Linked DNA regions of Homo sapiens. The protein of the gene in region 4 purifies or fractionates together with the protein of the main gene of each other region. This does not show direct contact. Each region holds a gene or a part of one and is shown on either strand. Other genes may lie near its edges.

The links.
Region 1: the proteins of SIRT6 (region 4) and PARP1 purify together in Homo sapiens (affinity purification with western blotting; 2 studies listed by BioGRID, with this or other methods). This does not show direct contact.
Region 2: the proteins of SIRT6 (region 4) and USP48 purify together in Homo sapiens (affinity purification with mass spectrometry; 3 studies listed by BioGRID, with this or other methods). This does not show direct contact.
Region 3: the proteins of SIRT6 (region 4) and CDC27 purify together in Homo sapiens (affinity purification with mass spectrometry; 2 studies listed by BioGRID, with this or other methods). This does not show direct contact.
Region 5: the proteins of SIRT6 (region 4) and GFPT1 purify together in Homo sapiens (affinity purification with mass spectrometry; 3 studies listed by BioGRID and IntAct, with this or other methods). This does not show direct contact.
Region 6: the proteins of SIRT6 (region 4) and PARP2 purify together in Homo sapiens (affinity purification with mass spectrometry; 2 studies listed by BioGRID and IntAct, with this or other methods). This does not show direct contact.
Region 7: the proteins of SIRT6 (region 4) and G3BP1 purify together in Homo sapiens (affinity purification with mass spectrometry; 3 studies listed by BioGRID and IntAct, with this or other methods). This does not show direct contact.

What each region holds. Positions count from the first base shown.
Region 1 is NC_000001.11:226,360,191-226,363,093, forward strand, and holds the end of PARP1 (poly [ADP-ribose] polymerase 1), read right to left. Parts: intron 1,894-2,903; coding exon 1,779-1,893; intron 1,352-1,778; coding exon 1,270-1,351; 3' UTR 501-1,269; downstream 1-500. UniProt on the Homo sapiens protein: Poly-ADP-ribosyltransferase that mediates poly-ADP-ribosylation of proteins and plays a key role in DNA repair.
Region 2 is NC_000001.11:21,752,150-21,755,649, forward strand, and holds part of USP48 (ubiquitin carboxyl-terminal hydrolase 48), read right to left. Parts: intron 971-3,500; coding exon 843-970; intron 503-842; coding exon 378-502; intron 1-377.
Region 3 is NC_000017.11:47,151,296-47,154,795, forward strand, and holds part of CDC27 (cell division cycle protein 27 homolog), read right to left. Parts: exon of another isoform or gene 3,492-3,500; coding exon 3,377-3,491; intron 642-3,376; coding exon of another isoform or gene 624-641; coding exon 511-623; intron 1-510. UniProt on the Homo sapiens protein: Component of the anaphase promoting complex/cyclosome (APC/C), a cell cycle-regulated E3 ubiquitin ligase that controls progression through mitosis and the G1 phase of the cell cycle.
Region 4 is NC_000019.10:4,176,587-4,179,563, forward strand, and holds part of SIRT6 (NAD-dependent protein deacylase sirtuin-6), read right to left. Parts: intron 2,701-2,977; coding exon 2,518-2,700; intron 553-2,517; coding exon 493-552; intron 1-492. UniProt on the Homo sapiens protein: NAD-dependent protein deacetylase, deacylase and mono-ADP-ribosyltransferase that plays an essential role in DNA damage repair, telomere maintenance, metabolic homeostasis, inflammation, tumorigenesis and aging.
Region 5 is NC_000002.12:69,324,728-69,328,227, forward strand, and holds part of GFPT1 (glutamine--fructose-6-phosphate aminotransferase [isomerizing] 1), read right to left. Parts: intron 2,349-3,500; coding exon 2,187-2,348; intron 1,507-2,186; coding exon 1,462-1,506; 3' UTR 1-1,461.
Region 6 is NC_000014.9:20,346,635-20,350,134, reverse strand, and holds part of PARP2 (poly [ADP-ribose] polymerase 2), read right to left. Parts: intron 3,273-3,500; coding exon 3,222-3,272; intron 1-3,221. UniProt on the Homo sapiens protein: Poly-ADP-ribosyltransferase that mediates poly-ADP-ribosylation of proteins and plays a key role in DNA repair.
Region 7 is NC_000005.10:151,809,954-151,813,285, reverse strand, and holds the end of G3BP1 (ras GTPase-activating protein-binding protein 1), read right to left. Parts: 3' UTR 501-3,332; downstream 1-500. UniProt on the Homo sapiens protein: Protein involved in various processes, such as stress granule formation and innate immunity. Plays an essential role in stress granule formation.

The DNA.
Region 1 (2,903 bases), on a different chromosome or scaffold from region 4:
AGAGGGTCTCCAGGTCAAAGGTGCTGGTCTTGAACTCCTGGCCTCAAATGATCCTCCCACCTCGGCCTCCCAAAGCACTGGGATTACAGGTGTGAGCTACTACCTCACTTGTCCCCTTCCGTAAAAGGTCAGAGGTGACATAAGACACTGGCCCTGCTTTCAGGCAATTGAAACGTAAACATTTAAGTATGATTCTCAAATGCAGAGCAGTTGTACAAGGCAATGTGGTGTATGAAAGGCAGTCCTCCAGAGAGCAGGATGAGTTCATCACCACAATGCATCTGATAAGCCGAAAAAAAAAAAAAGTGTCTCCTATGCCTGGTGCTTGGCCCACCCTTAGGTGGGGCATTCCCATTAAGCAATGCTATTTGCTGCCTGGCACGTTCTGGGGTTTCACAGATTAAGGGTAGAAACAATCCCCCCAAAGTCTCTTGGGACCTTGCACTGTGAAGATTAACCATATCTGTAGTCAGAATGAGACCAGACACGCAATACACAAATAGAGAAGGCATCTGCATTTTTAATCGAGTATTACTATTAGCCCTTGGGTAAGTATATTTGTGGTAGAGTTTTAATTTGGAAGACAAAAGTGCCCATAAGAAAGTCAAGAATTTCAAATGCAACTTTTAATACTACATATTTCAAGAGCTCCCATGTTCAGTATTCCTGGAGAAGGAAAGCTCTTTTTGTTTCTAAGTATGAGAAATTGTTAGCGTTCCTTCCTTTGGTCTTCCCACACCCCTCACCACAAGAGGCAAACAAAAAAAACTAAAAAGGGGACAATAAGTGCAAGATAAAAAAGAAAATCTAAATAGTATGAAATTAGTTTTTATTTTTAACTAAAAATAAATGCTTAACATCTTTCCAAAATCAAAACTAAAGACGAACACTTAGAAAAAAGGGTGGAAGTGTATTTTTCCTTCCCTGGGGAAACCAGTAAGGCAGACATTCTAACGAAGCTTGGTTTTTTCCATAGGACTAGTCTATGCAACAGAATCTCTCTCCAGCCTTTTCTCTATGTCAGTTTTATCTACCTGGCAAGAAAAAACAAAAACAACCCCAAAACAACCCCTCCCCACAGACACAACACAAAACAAGGGACTTGAGAAGTTAGAGAAAACCTTTAACACGTTTCTGTAAAATCCTTTCTGAGGTGGTTTAGTACAGGTACTACCCATCAGCAACTTAGCGGCCAGGTGAGTTGGTGCAGAAGCGCTTCGGGTGAATTCATACCAGAGCCACCGGGTGTGACTCGGCTACCTCTCCCAATTACCACAGGGAGGTCTTAAAATTGAATTTCAGTTTCAGCAGATACTTCAGATTTACCTGAGCAATATCATAGACAATGTACCTGAGGGGAAGCTTGTTAAGGAGCCAACAGCCATACAACAGAGGGTATGTACATGTGCCTCATCTCCCCCAGGCTGGCAGGACGCTCAGTGCCAGCCTGAAAGTCACTCTAAGGCCTCTTCATGGGGCTGGGTTGCCTCATCTCCCCGGGGCTGGCAGGATGCTCAATGCCAGCCTGAAAGTTACTCTAAGTCTTCTTCAGGCAGACTGAGGAGAGGAGATCATCCTCTGGAAACTGGGGGAAGGCTCATACCCTGTAAGCCAGGCTATGCACAGGGAGGGACCACAGAAGGGAAACAGTCACCATGGGACACACTACAGGACAGCCTCTAATCCTTGTCTGCCCCAGGTAATCTGACAGCACATAAGTGACTCTGTAGCTCGAGAACATCCCTTTGTGCTCACACAGCATACTCAAGAAAGGATACTCGTTATATAGTAGAGAGGTGTCATTCACACCAGATGAAATCCCGGTCCCAAGAGGAACGTCTACACCATCCAGACTAATGTTAGCTGAAGGATCAGGGGTAGTTTTGCCCAAACCTGAAAAACAGAAGTCACAAGTGACATGAACTGTGAGTACAGATGTGGCAAAGCTTCCAGGGAGATGAGCTCTATTTGATGTTGGGTCCATGTGGTCTTTCTTTTTTTTTTTTTTCCTTTTTGAGATGGAGTCTCACTGTCGCCCAGGCCGGAGTGCAATGGTGTGACTTCAGCTCAGTGCAACCTCCGCCTCCCGGATTCAAGCAATTCTCGTGCCTCAGCCTCCTGAGTAGCTGGGATTACAGGTGCGCGCCACCACACCCAGCTAATTTTCTGTATTTTAGTAGAGACAGGGTTTCACCATGTTGGCCAGGATGGTCTCGAACTCCTGACCTCAGGTGATCCACCACACCCAGCCTCATGTGCTCATTTTAAAGACATGCTCTATCTTTCTTCAGATATAAAACTAAGGCAATAAACCAAAGTTCCCAGGGCATCAACCTTCACTGAGTTTAATGAGAACAGTGGCAGTACCCTCCCTACAGGATCACATTTCGGCTCAATAGAATTTCAAAGCGGCCACTTCAACCAGGCAGTGGAAGGTTCTAAATCATATGCTGCAAATTCTAGCAATCCAAGATGCTCCAGGCACTACTATGTCACGAGAGGTCCCTCACTGCTGTAGCTACAAGTTAGGTTAAAGCCGAAACCCGTGCATCTGGTTACTGGTGCCTGCACCAAGATTCTCCTGTGGCATCTGTGATACCAGCTGCAGCCACAGAGAGTGAACTGTTTTTAAAAATGAACCTCCTGCTATAGAGCTTGCCTATTTTTTTTTTTTTTTTACAAAAATAAATAAAATGAACCTCCAATCATGGTCAGTTGCAGCATATTAACCACCACCACCACCCCCCAAACAACAACAACAACGCACACACACCCCTCGAAAAGATAAAATGAATCTCCAGCTGTTTGACAGCCAGCCACAAGGCAGCCTTCTCAGGACAGCAAGCCCCCGGCTTCTGTGCTGTCCAGGGTGCCTCGGGCTGTAGCAACAGCTTTGGAAACAC
Region 2 (3,500 bases), on a different chromosome or scaffold from region 4:
TGAAGTCTAGGTTTTAATGTAACCATCACCCAAATGTTGTATATTGTACTCATGCACATTTTTTTAACAGGCATTTTACATTTACTTTTAGTATTCTAGCCAGTTCCAATCTTACTCTTTAGCTCACACCACACAGCCATAAAGCAAGAGCAGACTGCAAGAGCTCACCCAGACACCGTTCCTAACACCTGGATGGGTGCAACTGCAATTACCAACTCACTTGTTTATATGTTCCCATGGAAATGTATTACTATAAATATTTCAGGTCCCATGATAAACCACTAAAGCTACAACCTGGAACTGCACTGAAAAATAGTTAACATATGAGCAACTGTCTTAGAATAAAATGTACCATGAAAAAGTTGAAACAGACTTACACAGTTACATAGGCATATTCTCCACAGAACTGCTGTTGAACAATATTGCGCACATCTGGATTCTTTTGTTTAGACAAAGTATCTTCCAATAGAGACATAAAGAGCTTTGAAAATTCTTGAGCATCCTACAAGTTTAGGTTAATGAAAAGAAAAATCATATCTTGCTTTTCAACTTCTACTACAAATAGTAATACATTCAACATTCCAGAAACTACCTATACTTTCAACTTAGCATTTTCAAACAGGGGCTACAGCTATGTTCAATCAGTTTGTGCCCCCATATGAATTTCCATAAATGGAATCAAGTATAATGTGTAAACTATTGGACAGTAAATAAAGGTTTTCATTCAAAATAGAAAAAATTTAATTTTTAAAAAGCATTCTACTTCATCTCCCTTTATAAACATGCTTAGGATGTTTGGGTACCTCTGAATATTTAAAAAAAAAAAAAAATTCAGTTCTTACCTGCTGTTGTCCAGTGTCCAGGCCCAAGGCTTTAACAAATCCTGATGGATCAATGTATCGCCTATTACTGTTTTGCAACAAGGCAAACAAGTACTGGAGATGCTCACAAATTGTTTGAGGCTCATAATCTATTAAAACAAAAATATAGATTTGGGGTTTTTTAAGGTGCTACTTTTCTTTCCAAAAAATGGTACTTCCTCTTCACATGAGAACATAAACATCTCTACATCCAAACTAGATTAATACTTTATTATCATTTTAAAACTTTAAAAGAAATAGGCTGAGCACGGTGGCTCATGCCTGTAACCCCAGCACTTTGGGAGGCCAAAGCAGGCAGATCACTTGAGATCAGAAGCTTGAGACAAGCCTGGCCAATATGGAGAAACCCCGTCTCCACTAAAAAAAATACAAATATTAGCCGGGTGTGGTGGTGCACACATGTAATCCCAGCTACTTGGGAGGCTGAGACACGAGCATCTATTGAGCGCGGGAGGAAGAGGCTGCAGTGAGGTGAGATCGCCAACAAAGTGAGACTCTCAAAAACAAAAAACAAGGCTGGGCACGGTGGCTCACACTCGTAATCCCCGCACTTTGGGAGGCAGAGGCGGGCGAATAATCTGAGGTCAGGAGTTCAAGACCAGCCTGGCCAACATGGTAAAACCCTGTCTCTACTAAAAATACAAAAAGTAGCTGGGTGTGGTGGCGAGCACCTGTAATCCCTGCTACTTGGGAGGCTGGGGTTCAAGGATAGCTTGAACCCAGGAGGTGGAGGTTGTGGTGAGCAGAGATCATGCCACTGCACTCCAGCCTGGATGACAGAGCGAGACTCTTTAAAAAAAAAAAAAAAAAAAAAAAAACTTTAAAAGACAGGGCTGGCGCAGTGGCTCAAGGCTGGAAGCAGTGGTTCACGCCTGTAATCCCAGCACTTTGGGAGGCCATGGCTGGCGGATCACAAGGTCGGGAGTTCCAGACCAGCCTGGCCAACATGGCGAAACCCCGTCTCTATTAAAAATACAAAAATTAGTGGGGCATGGTAGTACACGCCTGTAATCCCAGCTACTCGGGAGGCTGAGGCAGGAGAATCACTTGAACCCGACAGGCGGAGGTTGTAGTTAGCCAAGATTGTGCCACTGCACTCCAGCCTGGGCAACAGAGTGAGACTCCATCTGGGAGGAAAAAAAAAAAGAAATAGAATTAGCAACCATGTTTTGTGGAAGTCATGAGGCAGCCAGGACTGTCCATATACACTCCCCAAAGGCAAGAGCCTACCTGTATTAAAGCAACAACAGCAATCATGACTACAGTGTCTAGTCATGATTTTTTAAAGTCCAGTTAATGTGGACTTGGGATCTCAAGCACAGCAATTCACACTTAAGTGAAGAATACAAAACCGTAGAATTTTAGAGTTGAAAGTTTTAATGAGCTAGTGCAGGGAATGGAAGCAGAAAGCATGGATATTGAGAGCCCAGAAGACAGAAGTCTTATCTTCTTTAAGTTATTAACTTATTGCTTCTCAGCTCCAAATCTACCCTTCTTTGCCTGCTCAGTGATGAGAGATGGGCTCTGCAAATACTTCTCCTTTGCCAGTTATCAAGAAGGTAAGGCTTCTCAGTGAAGGGCACTGCAGGGTTTGGTTGTGCCTCTGTCACCAGCCTGCTGCAGATCAGCTTCCTCCAGGGCTCCAGGTTCCTGCCCCTAACAGTAGTCAGCAGCTTACCCAGCACCTCTTCTGATAGCTTCACAGTACAGTGCCTCCAGTGAGGCATTTCCTCTCGAATGACCACCCTGTGAATGGCCTCCCGGACACTCTCTCAGGTGACTCTGTAGGGGGTTCCAGGGCCCAGCACCTTCTCATGGACAGTTTCTAGTAGGGATTCCCAGGGAGGCATCTCAGCACCTTTTCAGCCACCCAGTGCATCCCAGCAGTGTCCAAAGAGGTCTGGATCTCAAGCCTGGGCCATGGGGGTGACAGACTATCCGTTGGATGTTCTCTTTCAGCCCCAGGGATACAGGTTGTTCCCTGTATCTGCTGTCCTTGTATTCTTTAAAATCCTCTTTAATCTTTAACTCTTATTAATCAATTCCTCATTTCTCTAATTAATTCTGTTATTAATTCTCAACTTTCCCTTTTCAAATTATTCTGTAGCTTCTGTCTTCTAACTGGACTATATTTATCTCCTTACTACCAACTGTGGCTTTCAGCAAGTCAATATATCATCTTCAAAATAAAGATAAAATATTACTCCTTGGCCTGCAAAAGCATTGCAGGCCAGTAAAAGCTATTCAAGGCCAGGTGCTGTGGCTCATGCCTGTAATCCCAGCACTCTGGGAGACCAAGGAAGGTGGATCGATTGAACCCAGGAGTTTGAGACCAGCCTGGGCAACATGGTAAAATGCTGTCTCCAAAAAAAACACAAAAATTAGCAAGAGGTGGTGGTGCATGCCTGTAGTTCCAACTACTCGGGGGGGCTCTGGCAGGAGGATTGCTTGAGCCTGGGAGGTTGAGGCTACAGTGAGCTGTGCTCGCACCAGCCTGGGCGAAAAAGTGAGATCTTGTCTCAAAAAACAAACAAACAATAAAAAAAAACCTTTTCTGTTCAAATTATTGTGTAGCTTCTGTCTTCTAATCAGACTCTGAATATTTGTATCCTTACTACC
Region 3 (3,500 bases), on a different chromosome or scaffold from region 4:
ATTTAGGTACATGTTCACAGTTTTAGAAAGGAGAAAGAAAATTGTATCTTCCTTTTAAAATGTTAGCTATAATCTATTGAGTCCTTGAAGAGGAAAAGAAAATCCTATCTAACACCATTTCTGTGTGGAAATAGATTCATTATTTGAAGTTTATTTGTCTGTTATTTTTATAATCTGTTTATAGACATGCATAATGTGGGGAAGGGGAGTATGAAACCTATCTGTACCTAAACTATAGAAAGGGTCATGTGCATAAGAAGAAAATTACAAATCCATGAGGCAATCAGAGTAAACTAAAATGCTGCTTTAGTTAACTATTGTCTTCTGTGCATTACAAAACTCAACTCAAAATTACATTAGTGTTGTAAGTTAGAGGTTTCAAATTTTACATCTTCAAAATTTACAGTAGTTATTCTAGAATCCACGAGAGTCACTATCTGCCTAAATTAAAGAAATGTAAAGAATCAAGTTTTATGCCAAGAAAAGTTGAATAATTACAATGATAAATACCTTGTTTGTGGACCAGAACTTTGTGTTTGTGCAAGAATTGGAGTTACCTCTCGGCTATTTCCACTCTGTGAGAAGACAGACTTTGTTCCAGTTTGGCCGATTCTGGCAACAGACTGTAAAACACGAAAAGTCTAAGGTTTGTGAATTATGGGCTGCACTGTAAATGATAAAAGACAACACAACGCTCCCATCTACATTTTCTCAATACAAGCAGCCATAATATACTGTCACCTTAAAGATAAACTATTTATATCATATTGTTAATTATTGTTGTATTAGTATGAACATCAGTCTATTTCCCTGTTTTAATCTCACAGTATTTTTACCTCTATAATGTCTTTTCATCTTTCGCTTTTTGTTTCAAAGACTAAAAATCCCCAGAAGCTATTCTTTTCATCTCATTGTGACCATCCTCCATTTATTACATACCTTCTCTATTTGGGGTTAAGTACTAAAAAATTTTAAGACAGCTAAATTCTCAAGATTTATGATTTATCTCATTATACACAGAAAAAAATAATAATACGATAAGATTTTATACTCCTTTGGCACTTGGTAACAGTTCTAAAGGAGTTCAGAGGAGTAGATTTTAAAAAAACAACCATCTGATTACTTTCCAAAACCTAAGGATATTGTTCTTTAGAGTTAATATTGCTTAGTTTTTCTAATCTTCATTAATTGGTTTCTGTTCCCTTGGAGAAAAAAAAATCTTTGCTTGGCTCTTCAGTCTTCTCTAATTTATTCCCTTATTTCTATTCATTTCCACCATCTAGCTTCTTTAAATGATCTATGACTATTGTATCAGTGCACTGTTTTTCCCCTTTGGCTACCAGAGAATTTTCTTCAAAACTTACTGTTACCCTGATGTCCTGTACACAATCCTCAAACTGCATATTATAAATAATCACTAATAATCACTGTCTCATCAGATATTAAAACCTTATTTTAGCCTTTCCTGCATTCAACATCACTGATCATGCCCTACTTTTTGAAACTTTGTGTTACTTCCAAAACATTACATTATTTGTCCTGCCACTTCATTTGCTGGCCCTTTATCCTTCTACTATTTTTAAATTAGGTTTACTCTGTTCTCCTTAGCTACTCTTTCTTTCCCTAGGAGAGCCTGGTCATTTTAATAGTTTCAATTATTATTTCTATCAGCAGGTCACATTTTTTCCTCTATGACTAACTTTCTACTGAATATTTTCATCTAATGTACCACCACTTCAAAATAAAACTTCATAAGCCTTCCTCCGCCTTTTCCAAATTGGGATCACTACATTCATCCAAGGGACAAAAGTCAACTCTGGCTTTTCCTTATTTATCAAAGAACTATGTACACTGCACTCAATACCTGGTTTGATATTTTCAGTTGACACTGCATGCAGACCTACATGCGTGACTTTTCTGGGAATGTCTTGTAATAAGGTAAGAGGAGAACAGAGGCAGAAGAGGATGAGAGAGCAATCTTATCTGGGCACTAAAATCATGTGCCTGCCCACTGTCTTAACTTGCTCTGGTTATTATGGTTATTATGGCTCTTCTAGTTTTGGCCTACTTCACCTGGCATGCTAACTACCATTTTGTTTTGCCTTCTTCATAACTGTAATGTTTAAAACAATCCATACACAAACTATTTTGCAGTCCCTTTTAAGTATTCTTGGAGTTCCTATTATCACTCACTAAGGAGTTATTATAGAAAAATCTTTTGCAGATTCTAAGGATGTTCAGGAGTAAAATAGTAAAAAAACAACTATAAGAAGAAACATGTTTCTATTAAGGTAAAGAGAGTATAACTGTTATTCACATATTAGTATGACTTGTTTAGCTTCCATTTCTTGAATATTTATGAAGCATGGCAATAGGTATTTTATATATAGAACCTAATTTAATTCTCACAGAAGTTACCTTGTGCCACAGATATGCTTTTTAAAAATGGTATTTTGGCCTCTATTTCCATATACCTATAAAAGGGAACATTATAAAACAAGAGCCTCAGCAGGGCAGTGACTCATGTTTATAATCCTAGCACTTTGAGAGGCCAAGGCAGGAGGATTGCTTGAGCCCAGGAGTTTGAGACCATCCCTGGCAACACAGTGAGATCCTGTCTCTACAAAAATAAAAGTTAAAAAAATTAGCTGGGTGTGGTGGTGTACACCTATAGTCCTAGGTACTTGGGAGGCTAAGGTGGAAGGATCACTTGAGCCTGGGAGGTAGAGGCTACAGTGAGTCATGGTCACACCACTGCACTCCAGCCTGGGCAGGAGAGCGAGACCCTGTCTCAAAAAAAAAAAAAAAAAGCCTCATGAAACTTGCCGCAATATTTACTATAAGTATACTACCAAATATTTTTCATTTTCATGTTAAAACTATACATCCATGATCTACCAAAAATCTTATTATCAGAAATATCTGGCTTTACCTGAGCAAATTTTTTTTCATATAATTATTAGTGTTATTAAAAAAACATATATACACAGTGGTAGGGACAAGTAAAAACTATGGCAGACATAATTTCTGTTATTTATAGTCAAGTAATATAAACAATATTAATTTTGTTTTTTAAAAAGGAAATTAAAAAGTAAAAATATGATTATGTTTATTTAACTATATGCTGAAATAAACTAAATTTGTGAGATACAATCTTACTTGGCCAAAAGAGTAAGAAGTCTGTCTCCTACTGTAACCAAGAGGCTACAACAATAATGACATTCTTTTATATTTAGATCACCCTCTACCTGCTGGGTTCAAATATAAGGCAAAAGCAATTACATAAAGTAAGATTTTCCCTGAGATTACCTTTAAAAGATTGAAATAAACAAGTTGCTTTAATCAATTCCCAAACTGCATTTTACATGGAAAATACCTTTTTTGAAGGGGCTCCGGTGGATGGCACATCAATTACAGGAGGTGTATTAGTGTAGTTTTGTAAATAGGATCCATCTCCAGGACTTGGGGTTTCTAATGGCAAAATCCCAAAACTGAGAAGA
Region 4 (2,977 bases):
AAAAAAAAGGAGAAACACAGAGATAAGAAGGCCCCTGTGGCTGTAGGTCCAGGACCACCAAGGGTGGCTGGCTGCCACCAGCAGCCAGGAAAAGGCAGGAAAAATCCTCCCCTACAGGTTGCAGAGGGGCATGGCCCTGCAGACACCTGGATTTTGGACTTCTGGTCCCCAGAACTGTGAGATCACAAATTTCTATTGTTCTACGCTGCTCATCTGTGGCAGGTTGCTACAGCAGTGCCAGGACACGGATGTACCCCCCACAGGAGGGAGGCACGGCCCCCCCAAATCCCTCCAGGAGGAAGACATGCCCCCCAAATCCCTCCAGGAGGGAGACATACTCCTTATATCCCCCCAAGAGGGAGACACGCCCCCAGATCCCCCCAGGAGGGCCACACCCCAGTCCCCCCATACCCTCTGGGTCTCTGGGACATCGGATTCGACCCCCAACCCCCTCTGGCAGAGCCCCCACCCCTGCACCCAGGTGGCACTCACGTCTTACACTTGGCACATTCTTCCACAAACATGTTCCCGTGGAGCTCTGCCAGTTTGTCCCTGTGGGAAGAGCAGGAAGAGGCTTGATGGTGGGAAAGGATCCCTGGATGCCCAGGCTTTGGAGCTGGTGCTAAGCCCCTCTCCTCCAGGAAGGCTTCCCGGACTCCTCTCCCACAACATTGATCAACTCCTTCTTTCTGGCTCTTCTAGCTCCTGGCTCCACCATTCATCTGCTGTGCATCTCTGGGCAAGTGGACCAACCTCTCTGAGCCCAAGGAATCATTAACCCCCAAGGCTGAACCCACCTTAGATAACGGGAAGCCCTTTCCACTCACAAAATGCCCGTCCCCCTCCGAGAGCATATGGGAACCTCTTGATGTCACCAGGTCAGAAGCACAGGAATTCAAATTCCCAGTTTATAATGGAAGAAACCGAGACATTGAATGGCCCTGAAGCATGAGATCCAATCCCAGCTTTATTTTATTTATTTATTTATTTTGAGACAGAGTTTTGCTCTTGTTGCCCAGGTTGGAGTGCAATGGTGCAATCTCAGCTCACCACAACCTCAATGGCACAATCTCAGCTCACCACAACCTCTGCCTCCGGGGTTCAAGTGATTCTCCTGCCTCAGCCTCCTGAGTAGCTGGGACTACAGGCGCCCGCCACCACGCCGGGCTAATTTTTTGTATTTTTAGTAGAGACAGGGTTTCACCGTGTTAGCCAGGATGGTCTCGATCTCCTGAGCTTGTGATCCACCCGCCTCGGCCTCCCAAAGTGCCGGGATTACAGGCGTGAGCCACTGTACCCAGCCTAATTTTTCTGTTTTTAGTAGAGACGGGGTTTTACCATGTGGCCGGGATGGTCTCGATCTCCTGACCTCATGATCCGCCCGCCTTGGCCTCCCAAAGTGCTGAGATTCCAGGCATAAGTCACCACACCTGACCCTCCTTTGCTTTTTTTTTTTTCAAGACAGAGTCTTGCTCTGTCACCCAAGCTGGAGTGCAGTGGCGCCATCTCGGCTCACTGCAACCTCTGCCTCCCGGGTTCAAGCGATTCTCCTGACTCAGCCTCCCGAGTAGCTGGGATTACAGGCATGCGCCACCACGCCCAGCTAATTTTTGTACTCTTAGTAGAGATGGGGTTTCAACATGTTGGCCAGGCTGGTCTCGAACTCTTGACCTCGTGATCCGCCTGCCTCGGCCTCCCAAAGTGCTGGGATTACAGATGTGAGCCACCATGCCCGGCCCCTCGTTTGCTTTTATAAGCAGAGAAAAATCTCTTCCTCACCCCTCACCCCTGGCTGCCGAGCTCCTCGTCTCAACAACTGACCTGGCTGTCATTGGTTGCCCCAGGGGTGAGACCTGGCAAAGAGGGGCAGGGGAGGGCCACACTTTTATTGGGAAATCAGCCTGCCCCAGAGCACAGGTTCACTTCAGTGTCAGACACGTTTAGTGTCAGATTAATAAAGATGGATATTAAAAACACAACAGGCCAAGCGTGGTGGCTCACACCTGTAACCCCAGCACTTTGGGAGGCTGAGGCGGGCAGATCACCTGAGGTCAGGAGTTCAAGACCAGCCTGGCCAACATGGAGAAACCCCGTCTCTACTAAAAATACAAAATTAGCTGGGTGTGATGGCGCATGCCTGTAATCCCAGTTACTAGGGAGGCTGAGGCAGGAGAATCGCTTGAACCTGGGAGGCTGAGCGGAGATCACGCCATTGCACTCCAGCCTGGGCAACAAGAACGAAACTCGGTCTCAAAAACAACAACAACAACAAAAAACAAACTGCAACTTCTAGACCCTGACAGCTCTCCTCCCCTTAGCCCCATCTCGAGGGAAATTCTGCCTCTGGCCTCAGCCGGGACAGCTCTGAGCCATGGGACTCAGAGATCTCCACACACTGGGCCAAGAACTCAGGGCTAGAATCTTATAGAACCAGGAAAAGGGGACTCTCCCCCTAAAAATGCAAACACGGTTTGTGGGGCCCCAAGCTCTTTTGTGGGGGCGGGGCCAGGGTGTTACCTGGGGAAGCCTGAGCGCACATGGAGCCCGTCCACGTTCTGGCTGACCAGGAAGCGGAGGAGGCCCACGCGCTCCAGCTGCACCAGCGCCATGTGGGTCTGCGTGGGCCGCGCGCTCTCAAAGGTGGTGTCGAACTTGGGGGCCAGACCTCGCTCCTCCATGGTCCAGACTCCGTGGGGACCCCTGAAGGTGGCAGGCCGGGAGAGATGGACGGGGAGAGGGGAACAGAAAAAGAGACAGAGGGAGAATCAGAGAGGTATAGAGAGAAAGTTGGAGAGAGAGAAAATCAGGAGACAGAGAGAGACAGGGAGACAGAGAGAGGGAATCAGAAACAGAAATAGAGGGTGAGTTGCAAGAACAGGGAGAGGGGGATAGAACAAGACACAGACAGAGAGATAAAGAGTTAAAGACAAAGCAAGTCAGAGACAGAATTGGAGAGAGACAGAGAGAGGGAGAGGCA
Region 5 (3,500 bases), on a different chromosome or scaffold from region 4:
ATAGCTTATCTTCACAATTTAAAAGTAAAAACCTTTGAAAAAGAAGGACTTCACCAAAAACAAACACACTCTCCTATAGCCCTGAAGATCTGGCCAGAAAAGCTCCATTAAGAAATTATTACTCACAATTTTGGGGGTATCAAATAATAACATTCTACTTTAAATATTTTAATCCAAATTGTCAACTTCCATTTCTGACACTTACAAGCTGAACATACCCCAATATCACTTTATTTATATCTTCTTTATTCCTAAATATATTTCAGGGGTAGAGCACAGAAAATACAGAAGAGGAAAAATACTTAGGATACAATACTAAATTTGGTGCCTATCAGTGTAAAGCATACATACCTTTTTCTGAGCTTAGCCTACCACATATACTTAGAGTGAAATGATGAGGTCAGCGACCTGCAAATCTTCCAAACAATTGCAAGTAACTTCCAAACTGGCACTAAGGGACTAGTTTTATGCAACAATGTAATGAAGGAAAGTTAAAATTAACTACAGGAAATTCTTCCTCGTGACAAAGTTGAAGAGAATACTGAATATATCAATATTAATTTAATAGCAGCTCTGTGTTGTGATTTTAAAGAACAAGATAAAATATGTCATTCAGCAGTCATTTAAAAAATAAAAGACTACAGATACAAGGAAATAAAAACCACTTTTAGGAGATGAAAACACAAAGTAGTAGGATACCCAACATGTACACATCCCATCTTCAAATTTAAAATCATATTGTCAGTTGTCCAAAGCAGCTTGAATTTAAAGTTTGTGCTATAAAATTGTGCAAATATGTTAAGGATTGAGACCCACCAATGCACTACTGTAATATTTCGCTTCCTAAATTTCTTCCACCTACAGATAATAGACAACAAGTCTGAGAAACTAAGGCTAACCAAACTTAGATATAAATCCTACCAATAAAATTTTTCAGTTTTAAGTTTTACAGTTTGATTTAAAAACAAAACAGAAACAAATTTCAAAATAAATCACATCTTCTCTTAAAACTTGGCAAACCCTTCCCTAACTGTCCAAGTATGAGCATACACTGCCACTGGCTTTAGATACTCCAATTAAATGCACTACTCTTTCACTGGTCTGAATGAAGTATGGTGAAACAAGTACCAATTTTTAGAAACATATTGTCTTCTCAGATTGAAGTGGAGGGTCCAGAAATGCAACACCCAGCATTCTTTAAAGAAAATAATAGCTAGAATCTTTCTGATACAGATTCCAATATAGATTCCATTATTCAAAGTCCTCCACAAATTACTGGGAAAATGTAAGAGGTAACTTCACAAAAATCACATATTGAGTGGAATAATTATAACTGATATATAAATAAGGATTTACTAAAAAAAGGCTTCAAGGGGTGATATTTTAAATCAAGGTTTTAAATACAAAAGGTGTCTTGTGTTGCTTAATCATACAGTTTCGTACATTTTGTATAGATATTCCTCACTCTACAGTCACAGATTTGGCAAGATTCCGTGGGAAATCAACCTGCAAAAAGAAAAAAAAAAAAAGCAAGATTTGAGAGATTATATAGACTGGGGAAGGGGGTGGTTACTATAAGCAAATTATTTTTGTTTATAAAAACAGAAAACAATACATTCATTAACCATCTTTATTACAGACTACAAAGAATTAGATTAGAAAATATAATCACATAATGTGTCCTGAAAAAAACTGAAATTGGTTAGGAAAAAGCATTCTAAAGGTGCCAGTTCACACAGAAAGAGCTACTGTGGTCCTCTACAGAAGTAGTAGCCCTCATAGGGGACACTAAAAACAAAAGCACTATGTTTTGGTTGCCACAATGGCTGAGAAACCAGGAATGCTACAAAGTCTTCAATGTGTGGGACAGTTCCAAACAAAAAAGAATTGTCCTGCCAAATGCCAATAGCTGCCCTGTTAAGAGATAGAGGTTATATTAAGAAAACAGGTGGAGACTACCCAAGGTGAGTCACAATCTTGGAGGTGAACCCCAAGGTTCCTTCAAGTTCTATGGGTAAGAAGATGTTGTGATGTAACCTACAAATTGGGCCATGAAAATATAACAGGTGACAGATATATATTTGATAGATTTCTCAAACACTATTGTTAAAAATTTAGGAGAAAAAAATCAGAATGTATCCAGGTAAAAAACCATCCCAAGATTTCTGCAGTGGTAGATGACTTACATCATAGCCTCTCAGCACAGCAAGGTGGAAAGCCAGCAACTGTAAAGGGATCACGCTGAGAATGCCCTGCAAGCAGTCCACTGAGTGGGGCACCTTGATCGTTCTTTTTGTGTTCTTAATGGTCTCAGTATCCTCCTTATCACAAATTACCACAGGCCGCCCCTAGGAAAGAAAATCACACACATACACAACATCACTGGTGGGCAAAGGCAGGGCTATAGCTTACGAATGTGCAAAAATTGCACTGCATAATCCATATGAAGCCTCACGGACAGACTTCTTTAAATTCCTGTGTAGTAAATCTGATTGTTATTACTTATAGTCGAGGAAACAGAAGCGTTATGGGATCCAGTAATTTGTTTAAACTCATGCAACTAAGAAATACCAGGCTTAGTACTTGACTGCAGGTTTGCCTAACTTCAAAGCTCAAGTTCATTACCACCACATTGTGCTTAGGGAATAATATCTTTTGGAATTTATATATAAAGCCAACTGATCTGAAGAAAACTCAATTATATAATATTAAAATAAAACCTAGATGTTAGATTTCCCCTGAAATATATCGCGTGTGTGTAATTTTTTTTAATTTATTTTATTTACTGTTTTAGAGACAGGGTCTCACTATGCTACCCAGGCTGTATTCAAACTCCTGGACTCAAGTGATCCTCCTGCCTCAGTCCCCAGAGTAGCTGGGACTACAGTCATGTGCCACTGCAACCAGCTGAAATATATATTTAAAAATATTTTAAAATACATTTTTAAATGTTTTAGAAGTATTAAATTAAAAAGGAACAGCATATGTTAACTAAAAGAAGACAGGATGTGGAGACCAAGACCTCAGTTCTGGTCTTGGTTCTGCCCAATATGAGATCTATGACCTTGGTCTTCTTAAAGCTCTAAGTATCTGGGCCAGGCGGGGTGGCTCATGCCTGTAATCCCAGAACTTTGGGGGGTTGAGGCAGGTGGATCACTTCAGGTCAGGAGTTCGACACCAGCCTGGCCAACATGAAACCCCATCTCTACCAAAAATACAAAATTAGCCAGGCGTGGTGGAGTGTGCCTGTAATCCCAGCTACTTGGGAGGCTGAGGCAGGAAAATTGCCTGAACCCAGGAGGCAGAGGTTGCAGTGAGCCAAGATTGTGCCACTGCACTCCAGGGTGGGTGACAGAGACTCCATCTCAAAAAAAAAAAAAAAAAAAAACTCTTAAGTATCTGATTCCTCACATGTAAACCTCAAAGGCTGTATTCCAAAGTAAATGAGTTAACACGTGTAAACATGTTTTGTAAGTCATTCAAATAAGCTAGCGTAACTC
Region 6 (3,500 bases), on a different chromosome or scaffold from region 4:
TCTAAACCTGTTATGCTCAACTGTTAAATGACTTACTCCTTGACAGTTCTACTCACAGCTTTTGTTTGTCAGCTGCAGAAATTTGACAATGAGCTGAGAGCAGGGCAATAATGGGAGGGGACAAGGGATACGCAAAACCACTGCCACATCCGTCCCATACCTAACCTGACCTGACTTGGAGATACTGAGAGAGAATATGGCCAGTATCTAAAAAGAGGTATCTGTAAGTAAATCACTCAGAGTGAAGAGAGAGAAGTCCATGATAAGGCATAGCAGCTGGTGTTGTATGGCCGAGCCCTGGATATGGAGGCATTCTTTTTTGTTAAGCATGCTGCCCCTTCCTACCTCTATCTCCTGCTTGCTCACATTCTAAAGCCATTGTACGACCTTAGCCCACTGGTGAAAAAAAAAAGGTCATTAGATGTTAGAACAAAAAGGAGCCTAAGATATTTTCTTTTTTTGAGACAGAGTCTTGCTCTGTCGCCCAGGCTGGAGTGCAGTGGTGCAACCTCCGCTCATTGCCACCTCTGTGTCCTAGGTTCAAGCAATTTCTTGTGCCTCAGCCTCCCTAGTAGCTGGGATTACAGGCACACGCCACCATGCCAGACTAATTTTTTTTTGTATTTTTAGTAGACATGGAGTTTCAACATGTTGGCAAGGCTGGTCTTGAACCCCTAACTCAAGTGATCTGCCCGCCTTGGCCTCCCAAAGTGCTGGGATTTTAGGCATAAGCCACCATGCCCAGCTTGATATTTTCTTTTCCTTTAAAAAATTTTTTTGTAAATGTTTTTATGGTTTTTATTTTTTATTTTTTTGAGATAGGGTCTCCCTCTGTCACCCAGGCTGGAGTGCAATGGCTCAATCACAGCTCACTGTAGCCTCAACCTCCCAGGCTCAAGCAATCCTCCCACCTCAGCCTCCAAAGTAGCTGGCCCATGCCCGGTGTTTTTGTATTTTTTTGTAGAGACAAGGTTTCACCATGTTGCCCAGGCTGATCTTGAACTCACACCTGAAGTGATTCTCCAGCCTTGGCCTCCGAAAGTGCTAGGATGACAGGCATGAGCCACCACACCTGGCTGCCTTAAGGTATTTTCCTTCTTTTCTTTTTTTTTTTGAGAAGGAGTTTTGCTCTTGTTGCCCAGGGCTGGAGTACAATGGTACGATCTCGGCTCACCACAAACTCCGTCTCCCAGGTTCAAGCAATTCTCGTGCCTCAACCTCCCGAGTAGCTGGGATTACAGTCATATGCCACCACACCTGGCTAATTTTGTATTTTTAGTAGAGATGGGATTTCTCCACATTGGTCAGGCTGGTCTTGAACTCCCGACCTCAGGTGATCCGCCCGCCTCAGCCTCCCAAAGTGCTGGGATTACAGGCGTGAGCCACTGCACCTGGCTAACCTTAAGGTATTTTCTATCTGCTCGTGGTATTTTAAGTAGAAGAAATAGTAAGAAATAAATACTAATTGGTTGTTAAAATTATATATGTTGGATCAATAAATTCAAACATGAAGTCATATCCAGGAAATATATTAATGAGGCAAATGTATTATCTACTCAAAACCACAAAGGTAAACAAGAGAAAAAGGTTGATTAAAAAGAAAGCTGAGCTTGGGGGCAGATGCCTGTAGTCCCAGCTACTTGGGAGGCTGAGGTTGGAGGATCACACGAGGTCACAAGTTCAAGGCCAGCCTGAGCAACATAGCAAGACACTGTCTCTAAAATTAAAAAAAAAAAAACCCAAAATTTTTTAAAAAGGAAAAATTAATAAATTTAACTACAGAAAAAATTTAAAACTTCAATATGGGCAAAAAGTGTACTATAAGGAAAACCAAAAGGTAAATGACAAATCTGGAAAACACAAGTGGTTTGTATTACAGACAAAAGGCTATTCTCCATATTATATAAAGTTCCTCGAAACCAGTAAGAAAAGGACCAATAACTTTAGAAAATGTGCAAAACAGCTTGTCCCAGTGGCTCATCCCTGTAATCCCAGTGCCTCATGAGGACAAGGCAGGAGGATCATTTGAGGCCAAGAATTCAAGACCACCTATCCAACATAGCGAGATTCTCATCTCCATAAAAAATTTAAAAATTAGTCAGGCTTTGTGGCATGCGCCTGAAGTCCGAGCTACTCAGGAAGCTTAGGTGGGAGGATTGCTGGAGCCCAGAAGTTCAAGGTTGCAGTGGGCTATGACTGTACAAACTGCACTCCAGCCTGGGTGACAGAACAAGATCCTGTCTGTTTAAAAAAAAAAAAAAAATGTGCAAAAGGATATGAACAGAGAGTTAACAATTTCAATAAATGATATGAAATTTGCAAAAAAAAATCTTCTCACAGAGGACTCTGCTATCTGATAAGAGTGTGCTAGGGCTGAGTACTCAGGTGTTTAACCACTAATGGCTAATATTAATATAAAGGACTTGCCGGGCGCAGTGGCTCATGCCTGTAATACCAACACTTTGGGAGGGTGAGGTGGGTGGATCACCTGAGGTCAGGGGTTCAAGACCAGCCTGGCCAACATGGTGAAACCCCATCTCTACTAAAAATACCAAAAAATTAGCCAGACACTGCACCTGTAGTCCCAGCTACTTGGGAGGCTGAGGCTGGAGAATTGCTTGAACCCAGGAGGCAGAGATTGCAGTGAGCCGAGATTGCACCACTGCATTCCAGCCTGGGTGACAGAGCAAGACTCTGTCTCAAAAAAAAAAAAAAAAAAAAAAAAAAAAAAAAAAATATATATATATATATATATATATATATATATATATATATATACACACACACATATGAAGGACTTTAGGCAAGGCGTGGTGGCTTACACCTGGTAATCCCAGCATTTTGGGAGGCTGAGGTGGGTGGATCACTTGAAGTCACGAGTTCGAGACCAGACCCTGGCTAACGTGGCGAAACCTTGTCTCTACTAAAAATACAAAAAATTAGCTGGGAGTGGTGGTGCACGCCTGTAACCCCAGCTACTTGGGAGGCTGAGGCAGGAGAATTGCTTGAACCTGGGAGGCAGAGGTTACAGTAAGCCGAGATTGTGCCACTGTATTCCAGCCTGAGAGATGAAGTGAGACTCCATTTCAAAAAGAAAAAACAAAATTTAAAAAAAAAAAAAAAAGGGACTTTAAAGATCTGAACACTGTGATGCTATCATCAATAATTATCAAGAAGATGGTCTCATAAATATAATGGTGCCACCTCTTCTTGCCTCTTACCTGATTTAGCATGACATCATAGACATCATTTCCTTCACAATACACATGAGCCTAGAAAGGGAGAGAGAGAAAAAATCAACATTAGTATAGGTTCAGCCCTGACATCCTAAATGAGGCTCTAAATTTTCTTATGGCTCAAGTCATCATTCTACAGCAACATCAACATTCATCTCCCAAGGAAAGAATTGCAAACCTATGTTCTACCAGTAACCTGGGTGTAACCTTACTATAAATGAAAACATGCTTCCTTTTTTTTAACTATACAAAAGATTCTGAGTT
Region 7 (3,332 bases), on a different chromosome or scaffold from region 4:
CATCTGACAAACTGGATAAAACATGTCTTCAACTGCTTTGGACTTGAAATGGACAAAGTGAAACACAAAATGACCAAAACAAAAACCTAATACTTTTAAGCCCTCTTGATATTCCAAGACTGCCAAAGGCTATTCCACTCTCATTGTCTAGATCAGCATCACAGTAGACCTGTTGAATAAAAATCACCTTATCTAGAATTGATGCAAGTTACTGCAATGAATAACTTGTAGTACATTTAGGGTGAAGAGTGGCTGGTGCATGATTAGAATACTCAGTGACTGTTAACTTGGCAAGTGTTCAAACATACCACAGTGCTTCCAAATCACAAATCACTTGGTCCTCTCTCCCAGGACAGGCCACTTACGGAGACCTTATTCTCAAACTTGACTGGCCTAGGGAAGCTATAGAAAGAGACCAAATTACCTTGCAGCCATAGCTGTGAACACACTGGAGCCATACTTGAAAACTGGCGATGAACAGGACAACAGAGAGATACCAATTCATTGCTAAAACATTCCAAAATGAGTTTATTACAAAATAAATGCACAGTCACTGGAGGAAGGGGTTATTTTATTTATACACTCGATCTTAGATTTAGCAACCTTTCATTTTGACTCAGGATTCATTGACTAACTTAAGATGGGCTAGTTTCTGCCAACAGGGCAAGAGTGTGCAATCTCAGAGTCCCACCCAACCTGGCCAAAGCAAATGACTTCTGCATTAATTAGAAGTCATCCCCAAAGGACTTGCCCTTCATGTTTTCCCCATTTTGCCCGCTTAGATACTTGCACAAAAGATGCACCCTTTGTCTTTAAAGTTCCCTAGTTCGATGTTTAGGCAGAAGAGCAAATCCCAGGTTATTATTCTGCAAATAATTTTACATTTCCTTTATTCCAAAAATGTAGCTACCAACTTAAATGTATCATGACACACAAGGGGTAAAAGTTAGATACGAACTTCCAATAGCTAGGGCATGTTTCCTGAAACACTATCGTTCATTAGTACATTATTCAAGAAGTTACCTTAACCCCAAAGAATCTAAGAAGGGCACTGTGTAATTCTTCAGGTCACAATGCCAGCATGACTGTGGAGTCTGTTACAGGTAAGACAATCACAAGTTACAATGCTGTGATTCCAAATACTTTGGGGATGTAGAAAATGTGCTTAGCTGGGCAGCATGAATTAGCTCAGCAACATAGTGCTATGATGGAAGAGGTTCAAGATGATTCATACTTTCACGCCAGACCAGAAGTCACAAGCTCACATAGCGGCAACTCTGACAGCTAGCCAAAGTAGAAGATACTTCTAAAAAGCAGCCTGGGGACATTTTAATTAATTGGCCTGGAAAATCAGGTCAGAATTACAAAGTTCCTCATCCTTATGAAGAAGAAAATGTGATAGTATGTCTTTTATATGGAAATTTCTTTGTATATATGTATAAACTTGGTATGGCCTTAATGCTGCAGTTAAGGATTTGTCTGGCTACCACCTTAAGCAGCGTGTTAAGCAATCGCTTCCTTAATGTAACATTTTTACTTCTTACTGGACACTCAACCTTGAACAACTAATTCCCTTTTGCCCCTTACTCTTCCCCCCTTTTTTTGCATGAAGTCACAAAAGTTATGGCAGTTATTTTTTGGCTTGTAAAAAAAAAAAATCTATTTCTGCAGTTTGAAGATGGAATGTAAAATTTCTGTGAAACATGTATATAAAAGTATATTTATTGAACCATCCATATACACATATCCATGCTGATTCCAATGGAAAAAAATTAAAGTTTTCTGAAATTTTCTGTGGTTAACTCATAATTATTACTATTTAACCAACTTTATATGCAAGAACTTCCAATTACCCCAGGGAGAAACCTATGTATGACCTGGAAAACATCTCACTTTAGACAAGGCTTTATGTCGAGAAATGAGAATTCATTTGTTCATTCAAGAAGTATTTATTGATAGGTGCTAGGCAAGATACAAAGATGACTCAGACACAGATCCTGCCCATAAGGAGCTTACAGTCTAATAGGGGAGAGAGAACACATACATGGAATACATGGTCAGAACTATGTTTCAGTAAGATGAATCTAACATTGTGTATAAAGTAGGCTGGAGTAAGAGGTTAAGTGAAGCTGAGAGACTACTGAAATTACATAGGTGAGGAAGAAAGACGGGAAAGACTTGAGGTAGAACTGACAGGACTTAGCTGAAGACTGGATGTGGGGAATAACAAAAATGGAAGCAGATGACTCAGACTTTAGCATGGATGATGTCATGAACTGAAAGAAGGAACAAGTTTTTGCAAAGAAATGAAAATTTCATATAAAATTCTTCTGCATAGAAACAAACTGTCTGGGATATACTAGGCACAATCAGGAAGAAATGGCTAGTTACCCAGACCAATGGAAGCACCTCAAACTGGCCAGTGACTTCCTCCCCCTTATATATCCATCCCCCCAAATTTCCCAACAATTTTCTCCACTGAAATGGTATAGTGCCTAAAATTTATTAAATTCAAGGTCTATCTCCAGACATGGCCTCCCTTGGGAATGAAAACAGAAATATATTAAGTTATTCAACTCAGTAAGTTTCATCTAAAGACTCTAGTTATGAGTCACTGTACCTTCTGGTGGAATACAGAGATGAACTCCCTAGTCCTTATCTTCTAGGAGCTTACAGTCTAGTAAAGTAGTAAAACAGATAATGTAATTCTAATTCTAGACTGAAGGGGTAAGTTATGAACTACGAGAAAGACAAAGTGCTCTAGAACAGTTTCAGAAATGAAGGTTGGAACAGGACCTCAAACAAGAGGGAAAATGTGGAAAGTAGATGAGAATGGATTTGTTCCTCACTCCAAATTCTGGACAGATCAGCCCCAAAACGGGGCTACTCCCCATTCCTGTTGAAATTTTTTCTTAGGAAAAAATATAGCTCTTGTACTGATCTTTTAAAAAATTACTTACATGGCAAGAGATCAGAGGAAAGGGGGGATTGTAGATCTCAGTGGACCTTCGGGGAAGACAGAAGGCACTTGAAGCCAAGGAATCACAATGCCTGGCTTATCGGGAGGACCCTCAGTGTTTTAGCAAGGCTGGAGCATCACTTCCATGAAGAGTGGGAGAAATAACTCAAAAGTAATATTAAGACCTTGATATAAACATGGCATTGCCAGGCACTAAACAGGGTACACGCCTAAGACCAAATTGCTGCCCCCTAGGAGCTTACAGTTACAACAATACAAGGTGGAAAAAGCACCACAATGTACAGAATGCAAAATGCTGAAGTATTTAGGAGAAATTACAGCTGAGTTTCAGCTATTAACACATTAGGATACC